Homo sapiens: one gene and its partner. The protein of the gene in region 1 purifies or fractionates together with the protein of each later gene. This does not show direct contact. Each region holds a gene or a part of one and is shown in the gene's direction. Other genes may lie near its edges.

Region 1 (5,320 bases):
TTGAATTGAATTGATCCCTTTACCATTATGTAATGGCCTTCTTTGTCTCTTTTGATCTTTGTTGGTTTAAAGTCTGTTTTATCAGAGACTAGGATTGCAACCCCTGCCTTTTGTTGTTTTCCATTTGCTTGGTAGATCTTCCTCCATCCCTTTATTTTGAGCCTATGTGTGTCTCTGCACGTGAGATGGGTTTCCTGAATACAGCACACTGATGGGTCTTGACTTTTTATCCAATTTGCCATTCTGTGTCTTTTAATTGGAGCATTTAGCCCATTTACATTTAAGGTTAATATTGTTATGTGTGAATTTGATCCTGTCATTATGATGTTAGCTGGTTATTTTGCTCGTTAGTTGATGCAGTTTTTTCCTAGCCTCAATGGTCTTTACAATTTGGCATGTTTTTTCAGTGGCTGGTACCGGTTGTTCCTTTCCATGTTTAGTGCTTCTTTCAGGAGCTCTTGTAGGGCAGGCGTGGTGGTGACAAAATCTCTCAGCATTTGCTTGTCTGTAAAGGATTTTATTTCTCCTTCACTTATGAAGCTTAGTTTGGCTGGATATGAAATTCTGGGTTGAAAATTCTTTTCTTTAAGAATGTTGAATATTGGCCCCCACTCTCTTCTGGCTTGTAGAGTTTCTGCCGAGAGATCAGCTGTTAGTCCGATGGGCTTCCCTTTGTGGGTAACCTGACCTTTCTCTCTGGCTGCCCTTAACATTTTTTCCTTCATTTCAACTTTGGTGAATCTGACAATTATGTGTCTTGGAGTTGCTCTTCTCGAGGAGTATCTTTGTGGCATTCTCTGTATTTCCTGAATCTGAATGTTGGCCTGCCTTGCTAGATTGGGGAAGTTCTCCTGGATGATATCCTGCAGAGTGTTTTCCAACTTGGTTCCATTCTCCCTGTCACTTTCAGGTACACCAATCAGATATAGATTTGGTCCTTTCACATAGTCCCATATTTCTTGGAGGCTTTGTTCATTTCTTTTTATTCTTTTTTCTCTAAACTTCTCTTCTTGCTTCATTTCATTCATTTGATCTTCCATCACTGATACCCTTTCTTCCAGTTGATCGAATCAGCTACTGAGGCTTGTGCATTCATCACGTAGTTCTCGTGCCATGGTTTTCAGCTCCATCAGGTCCTTTAAGGACTTCTCTGCATTGGTTATTCTAGTTAGCCATTCGTCTAATTTTTTTAAAGGTTTTTAACTTCTTTGCCATGGGTTCGAAATTCCTCCTTTAGCTTGGAGTAGTTTGTTCGTCTGAAGCCTTTTTCTCTCAATTCGTCAAAGTCATTCTCCGTCTGGCTTTGTTCCGTTGCTGGTGAGGAGCTGCGTTCCTTTGGAGGAGGAGATGCACTCTGATGTTTAGAGTTTCCAGTTTTTCTGCTCTGTTTTTTCCCTGTCTTTGTGGTTTTATCTACCTTTGGTCTTTGATGATGGTGATGTACAGATGGGATTTTGGTGTGGATGTCTTTTTTGTTTGTTAGTTTTCCTTCTAACAGTCAGGACCCTCAGCTGCCGGTCTGTTGGAGTTTGCTGGAGGTCCACTCCAGACCCTGTTTGCCTGGGTATTAGCAGCGGAGGCTGCAGAACAGTGGATATTGGTGAACAGCAAATGTTGCTGCCTGATCGTTCCTCTGGAAGTTTTGTCTCAGAGGAGTACCCGGCTGTGTGAGGTGTCAGTCTGCCCCTCCTTGGGGGTGCCTCCCAGTTAGGCTACTCGGGGGTCAGGGACCCACTTTAGGAGGCAGTCTGTCCATTCTCAGATCTCAGGCTGCATGCTGGGAGAACCACTGCTGTCTTCCAAGCTGTCAGACAGGGACTTTTAAGTCTGCAGAAGTTTCTGCTGCCTTTTGTTCGGCTATGCCGTGCCCCCAGAGGTGGAGTCTACGGAGGCAGGCAGGGCTCCTTGAGCTGCGGTGGGCTCCACCCAGTTCAAGCTTCCCAGCCGCTTTGTTTACCTACTCAAGCCTCGGCAATGGCGGGTGCCCCTCCCCCAGCCTCGCTGCCGCCTTGCAGTTTGATCTCAGACTGCTGTGCTAGCAATGAGCGAGGATCTGTGGGAGTAGGACCCTCCGAGCCAAGCGCAGGATATTATCTCCTGGTGTGCCGTTTGCTAAGATCGTTGGAAAAGTGCAGTATTAGGGTGGGAGTGACCTGATTTTCCAGGTGCCATCTGTCACCGCTTTCTTTGACTAGGAAAGGGAATTCCCTGACCCCTTGTGCTTCCCGGGTGAGGTGACGCCTCGCCCTGCTTTGGCTCACTGGGTGCGCTGCACCCCCTGTCCTGCACCCACTGTCCGACACTCCCCAGTGAGATGAACCCGATACCTCAGTTAGAAATGCAGAAATCACCCGTCTTATGCGTTGCTCACACTGGGAGCTGTAGACTGGAGCTGTCCCTATTCGGCCATCTTGGCTCCACCCCCACCCTTTTTTTTTTTTTTTTTTTTTTTTTGGTAAAAACAGAGTCTGGCTAGGTTGGGCAGTCTGGTCTTGAACTCTTGGCCTCTAGCAATGTTCTCACCTTCGCCTCCCAAAGTGCTAGAATTACAGATGTGAGCCACCGCACCCAGCCTAAAAATTATGTTTGAAGTTAGCTTTATTAAGGTGTCACTTATCTTATGTAAAATTTACCTACTTTACATGTACAATGTGAATTTTAACAAACGTATGCAGTTATATAGCCACCCATACAGTGAAGATAGGAACTATTTCCATCACCCAAAAAAGTTTCTTTCTTTCCTTTTGCAGTGAAGTTCTCTCTCCTACCTCTCTGGCCCTGGTAAACCACCTGTCTGCCTTCTATCACTATAGTTTTGCCTTTTCTAGAACATAGGTAGTCTCTTCTGTGTATGGATGTCTTCTTTCACATTGTAGTGTACTTTGGAGACTCAAACCATGTTATTACATGTATCAGTAATTCATTCCATCTTCTTGCTGAGTGTACTCCATTGTTTATATGTTCCAGTTGAGGGACATTGTCCTTTTGCTTTTTAGAAAACTTTTTATTGGGCCAGGCACGGTGGCTCACGCCTGTAATCCCAGCACTTTGGGAGGCTGAGGCAGGTGGGTCACCTGAGGTCGGGAGTTCCAGACCAGTCTGACCAACATGGAGAAACCCGATCCCTACTAAAAATACAAAATTAGCTGGGCGTGGTGGTATGTGTCTATAATCCCAGCTACTCAGGAGGCTGAGGCAGGAGAATTACTTGAACCTGGGAGGCAGAGGTTGCAGTGAGCTGAGATTGTGCCATTGCACTCCAGCCTGGGCAACAAGGGCAAAACTTCGTTTCAAAAAGAAAGTTTTTATTTTGAAACAATTTTAGACTGACTTACAGAATAATTATAAAGATAGTAGAGAGAGTTTTCATATACCCTTTCCCCAGTTTCTCCTGATGTTTAACATCTCACATGGCCATGGTACAATTATCAACATTTAAGAAATTAATACTGGCTGGGCATGGTGGCTCACGCCTGTAATCTCAGCACTTTGGGGGGCCAAGGCTGGCAGATCACGAGGTCAGGAGTTCGAGACCAGCCTGGCCAACATAGTGAAACCCCGTCTCTACTAAAAATACAAAAAAATTAGCTGAGTTTGGTGGCACGTGCCTGTAGTCCCAGCTACTCGGGAGGCTGAGGCAGGAGAATCGCTTGAACCCGGGAGGCGAAGGTTGCAGTGAGCCGAGACCACGCCATTGCACTCCAGCCTGGGTGACAGAGTGAGACTTCATCTCAAAAAAGAAATTAATATTGGAGCCAGGTGGTGGTGCATGCCTGTAGTCCCAGCTACTTGGGAGACCAAGGTGGGAGGATGGCTTGAGCCGTGGAGTTTAAGACTAGCTTGAGCAATATATCAAGATCCCATCTCTAAAATAATAATAATAATAATAAGGCCAGGTACGGTGGCTCACGCCCATAATCCCAGCACTTTGGGAGGCTGAGGCGGGTGGATCACGAGGTCAGGAGATCGAGACCATCCTGGCTGGCATGGTGAAACCCCATCTCTACTAAAAATACAAAAAATTAGCTGGGGTGGTGGCAGACGCCTGTAGTCCCAGCTACTTAGGAGGCTGAGGCAGGAGAATGGTGTGAACCTGGGAGGCAGAGCTTGCAGTGAGCCGAGATCATGCCACTGCACTCCAGCCTGGGCGACAGAGCAAGACTCTGTCTCAAAAAAAGAAAAAATAATAAAAATATACTTTATTTTAAAAAGTAATATTGGTACAATACTATTATTTAAACTACAGACTTTATTCAGATTTTCATTGTCATTTCTCTAGTCTCCTACAATCTGACAATTCCTTAGTCTTTCTGTGTCTTTCATGACTTTGATGCCTTAATTTTTTTTTTTAATTTTTAAACACTTAAAAAATAGAGACAGGATCTTGCCCTGTCACTCTATTTGGAGTGGAGTGGTGCAATCATAGCTCATTGTAGCATTGAACTGCTGGGCTTAAGTGATCCTCCTGCCTTAGCCTCCTGAATAGCTATGACTATAGGAGTGTGCTGCCGTGCCTGGCTAATTTTTTTCTTATTTTTTGTGGAGATGGGATATTGCAGTGTTACCTAGGCTGGTCTCAGAATGCTGGGCTCAAGTGATCCTCCCACCTTGCCCTACCAAAGTGCTGGGATTACAGGTGTGAGCCACTGTGCCTGGCCTGATGCTTTCTAAGAGTACTTGTTTAGATATTTTGTGTCCCTAGATTTGTCTGATGATTAGGCTGCAGTTATGGATTTTTGGGAAGAATACCGCAGAGGTGATGTGCCCTTCTCATGGTGTCCTATCAGGAGCTACCTGATGTCAGTATGTCCTGTTACTGGCAAAGTTAACCTTAATCATTTGGTTAAGGTAGCCTCTGCCAGGTTTCTCCACCAAGTTACTATTTTTCCTTTTCTGTACTCTGTTAAGGCAAATTATTGCTTTTTAAATTTTGATGTACCTCAATATGCATGGGAGATACATAGCTTTGCAGCTCCCTCAATCTTAATTGTAATAATAATAGTAATAACAATAACTAGCACTTGCTCCGCCTGCATAGTTCTAAACACATGTGCCCATTTAATCCTCATGACACCCTGTGAAGCAGGCACTTTATGCTCATTTTATAGCCGAGAAGACTGAGGTACAGAGTACCTTGCCCAAGGCCTAATAACTAGTAAGTGATGGAGCCAGATCTTTTTTTTTTTTTTTTTTTTTTTTTGAGACGGAGTCTTGTTCTCTCTTGCCCAGGCTAGAGTACAGTGACATGATCTCGGCTCACTGCAGCCTCCACATCCCGGGTTCAAGCAATTCTCCTGTCTCAGCCCCCCGAGTAGCTGGG
Region 2 (4,428 bases), on another chromosome or scaffold:
TTTATTTAAAAAAAATTTTTTTTAGAGTTGGGGTCTTGCTCTGTCGTCTATGCTGGAGTGCAGTGGCATGATTATAGCTCACTATAGCCTCAACCTCCTGGGCTCAAGTAATCCTCCCACCTCCGCGCCCCAAGTAGCTAGAACTACAGGCACGTGCCACCACACTGAGCTCATTTTCTTTTATTTTTGTAGAGACAGAGTCTCCCTATGTTACCCAGGCTGGTCTTGAACTCATGATCTTAAGTGATCCTCTTGCCTTGTCCTCCCAAAGTGCTGGGATTATAGGTGTGAGCCACTGACCCAACCTGTTTTTTTGGTTTTTCTTTTATGGGGGTTTTTGTTTTGTTTTGTTCTGTTTTGTTTGGTTTGGTTTTGAGACAGAGTCTCAGTCTGTCACCCAGGCTGGAGTGCAGTGGCGTAATCTCGGCTCACTGCAACCTCTGCTCACTGCAACCTCCGCCTCCCAGATTCAAGTGATTCTCATCTCTCAGCCTCTCAAGTAGCTGGGATTACAGACGTGCACCACCGTGCCTGGCTAATTTTTGTATTTTTAGTAGAGACAAGGTTTCGCCATGTTGGCCAGGCTGGTCTTGAACTCCAGGCCTCAAGTAATCCTCCTGCCTTGGCCTCCCAAAGTGCTGGGATTACAGGCGTGAGCCACCATGCCCAGCCCCAAGCTGTTTTTTACTTGAGTAAAAAAAGGAGATCTATCAAATACTGAGGTTCAGTTAAATTTAAATTTAAACTTGAGCTTTTTAAAGCGTTTTTTGAATTCTATACATTTTGATTGTTGTAGCAAATGGACACTAAAAACTAGACAGTCATTTGTGTCTCTCTGTGATACAAGAGAATGCACAAGACCTGAGTATCCAGAAGGTTGGGGGAGCCCAAGTGGTGTATGAAGGTGCTGGCCACCAGCAGGTGGAGTTGGAAGGGCTCCCTAGTACCATCTGCGCCCACCCCTGCCCAGGGCTAGGCTCTTCCTGCATGGCTTGCTGCCTCACGAGATGGCTCCTTCCTCTCCTGTACAGTCCCAGAGTAGAAGGTTCTTCCTTGTAGTAAACCACAGCCTCTCTCCCATTCAACTCTATTTTCCATTTCATATTGGTCCTGCAAAAAGCAAAGTCTTTGAGGCCCAGTGACACTCAGTTTTAGGCTAGGTTGACTACAAATTAAATACTTGGAAAGCAACTCTTAATTTTCCCATTGACTTCCGTTAGAACATTGGAAGATATCTGGATCTGCAGACTCTGCTAGACTGGACTGAAACATTTTGGGTGAGAGAGGAACTAAGAAGGCCACCCTTGGTACTGGCATGTGAGGTGTGGTTGAGCCAGGGAGCTGAACCTATGGAGTGCTTCCTCCTCCAACAGTTTGTGGCTGCTTTTGTAGTACTCAGCATTTCCCCTAACTTTCACCACTCATGGAGGACTCCCAGGTTCCCACGTGGGACTCCTGGAGCTCTGTACTGCACCTGGGTTTGTCTGAGATTTACAATGTCTAATACACTTCACCTAGGCTGTCATTTTTTCATTATAAACTAGAATCAGAGATATTGTATTGCATCCTCAGATTTTCCTGAGTGGTATTTAAGTTGCTATTATAGTGGTACTATAAAGTCAGGATTCCATATATTCAGTCTACATAGGATAAAAATGTCTATGTGACACCAGGTGTGGTGGCTCATGCCTGTAATGCCAGCACTTTGGGAGGCCGAGGCAGATGGATCACCTGAGGTCAGGAGTTCGAGAACAGCCTGGCCAACATGGTGAAACCCCATCTCTACCAAAAATATAAAAATTAACCAGGCATGGTGGCACACACCTGTAATCCCAGCTATTCGGGAGGCTGAGGCAGGAGAGTCACTTGAACCTGGGAGGCGGAGATTGCAGTGAGCTGAGATCATGCCATTGCACTCCAGCCTGAGCAACAAGAGCAAGACTTTGTCTCAAAAAATAATAATAAAATAAATCTATGTGACAAAATCTATGACTTAATATCTCTGTGTCTTGATTTTTTATTTAAGATGTTTTCTTATCAAATTAACACATGCTTGTTTAAAAATATTTGAAAAAATAGAAAAGCTGGAGGAAAAGGAGTCATCTATGGCAACACCTAAAACTAAAATAGCTGTTAACCTCTTCCTGAATCTCTTTTGGGTATACAGTGTATACTTGTTTTTTGTCTTTTTTTTAAAAAATGGGATCATAAAATACAGTTTTGTAACCTATTCCTAATCTCCTGTTGTAAATGTAGTCAGCCCTCCATATATGTGGGTTCTGTATCTGTGGATTCAACCAGCCACAGTTTGAAAATATTTGAAAAAAAAAATTGCATCTGTACTGATGATGTATAGATTTTTTTTTTTTGAGACAGAGTCTCGCTCTGTTGCCCATGCTGGAGTGCAGTGGCACGATCTCGGCTCATTGCAAGCTCCGCCTCCCGGGTTCACGCCATTCTCCTCCTCAGCCTCCCAAGTAGCTGGGACTACAGGCGACCACCACCACACCCAACTAATTTTTTCATATTTTTAGTAGAGACAGGGTTTCATCGTGTTAGCCAGGATGGTCTTGATCTCCTGACCTTGTGATCTGCCTGCCTTGGCCTCCCCAAGTGCTGGGATTACAGGCGTGAGCCCCCACACCCAGTGGATGTATAGATTTTTTGTTCTTGATATTTTTCCCTGAACGATACAGTATAACCACTATTCACTTAGTATTTACATTGAATTAGGTATTATAAGCAATCTAGAGATGCTATAAAGTATAGGGGAGGATGTGTGTAGGTTATCTGCAAATACTGCACTGTTTTATATCTGGGACTTAAGCATCTGCAGATTTTGGTATTCATGGGGGTCCTGGAACCAATCTCTCGCAGATATCGAAGGACAAGGCTATCATGTGTTTCTAGTGTCTGCTTAGCTAGCTGGCCCAAGCCCCTAGATCATGCAGAGACACAAGCTTCACAAAGCCCTCTTCTCTGAGACTGGGCAGGCTGTTTCTAAGCTGTTTTGCATGGCTCTTTTTGCTACTTCGGATTTACTTGCAGAGGTCTTCTCATTAATTTTTCTTAGCTTTCGTCTGTTTATTTTGTCTGTCTGTTCACCATTCCCATCCTTTGGCCTTTTCCTCAGCCATGTTAACAAGGCAGGTGTAGGGCAGTGGGGCCCCAGCTGGAGTCCAGGTATCTGCCCCAGGGTTGAGTCTGCATTCAATGGGGTGACCATAGGGCCCCATCTGTTACTTGGTCTTAGCTGCCCTTTTGGGAGCCACGTCCCTAGCTGTCATGCCTTGGGAAGGTGAGTTTACCTGGGCACATAAGCATAGTTCTGAGAGCAGCCTCTCCTTCTCTCAGTCAATCGGCACACTCTCTTTTCTGCTTTCAGGGCAAGTTTCTGGCTTTTTATCAGTATGCAAAATCATTTAACTCAGATGACTTTGATTATGAAGAGCTGAAGAATGGAGACTACGTCTTCATGAGGTGGAAGGTAAGTTCCCACCAGGTGGCCCTCCAGACTCCCAGCAAGCCAGGCCCTGTATCGCACCTACATATTCACTCTAACCAAGGGCTCCCCATGTCCAGTGCTCGTCACAGCTGGTTGTCATGGCAAAGTCTTCATGGCAGGGTCTTTGCACGCCTATAAAAAGTGGGCCCAGCTCCAGGGCACGCACTGGTTAACTGCCGATGTCCCAGACAGCTCCTCCTCGCTGTGCTTTTGGTGGGTAGCAAGTGGATTTGGGCCTAGGTGGCTGCCTCTAACATTGTCTTCTCCCTTTCCTTTCTCCCACCCAAGAATCTTGTTGAACCCCCAAGTTGAATCACTCCAAGTGTTCTGTGGATTCAAGGCAGAGCCAAACTTGCTTTGAACTTAGTCATCAGTTGTACCCAGATCCCTCTACAGGCTTAAACACCATCCGTGGGCCAGGTGCCCTCCACCACATCCTTTTCCCAGAGCTCAGGAAAGTCTCACCTCCTCTACTTCCCTCCAGCTCAGGAAATGAGGGACCGGGAATGGAACACGGGTTTTTGACTCAGCAGACCTCAGAGAGCCCCACCTGACTGACTTGATGGATTGGCTTTTAGCTGCGAGGTCATTTGTGCTCCCTGCTTTGATAACGTGATATTTACAGCCCCAGAATAGCAAAATCAGGAAGCCAGTTTGTTAAATAACTTTGAGAACATACCAACCCCTAGTCCCCAGTCTGCAGGGAAAAAGTCGTTTTATCTTGAAATCTTGTCAGCTTTCATAAAGATGAATCATATTGAGTTGCCTTTCCTGGTCTTTATTTTGCATAGCTAACCACTTTAGGAAGTGGGGATCGGCCGGGCGTGGTGGATCACACCTGTAATCCCAGCACTTTGGGAGGCTGAAGCAGGCAGATCATGAGGTCAAGAGATTGAGACCATCCTGGCCAACATGGTGAAAAC

The links. Proteins that work in one complex are often made in the same cells at the same time.
Region 2: the proteins of GCH1 (region 1) and GID4 purify together in Homo sapiens (affinity purification with mass spectrometry, with the first as the bait; one large-scale study listed by BioGRID). This does not show direct contact.

What each region holds. Positions count from the first base shown.
Region 1 is NC_000014.9:54,867,470-54,872,789, reverse strand, and holds part of GCH1 (GTP cyclohydrolase 1), read left to right. Parts: intron 1-5,320. UniProt on the Homo sapiens protein: Positively regulates nitric oxide synthesis in umbilical vein endothelial cells (HUVECs). May be involved in dopamine synthesis. May modify pain sensitivity and persistence.
Region 2 is NC_000017.11:18,055,483-18,059,910, forward strand, and holds part of GID4 (glucose-induced degradation protein 4 homolog), read left to right. Parts: intron 1-1,220; coding exon of another isoform or gene 1,221-1,544; exon of another isoform or gene 1,545-1,989; intron 1,990-3,385; coding exon 3,386-3,487; intron 3,488-3,793; coding exon of another isoform or gene 3,794-3,817; exon of another isoform or gene 3,818-4,266; intron 4,267-4,428.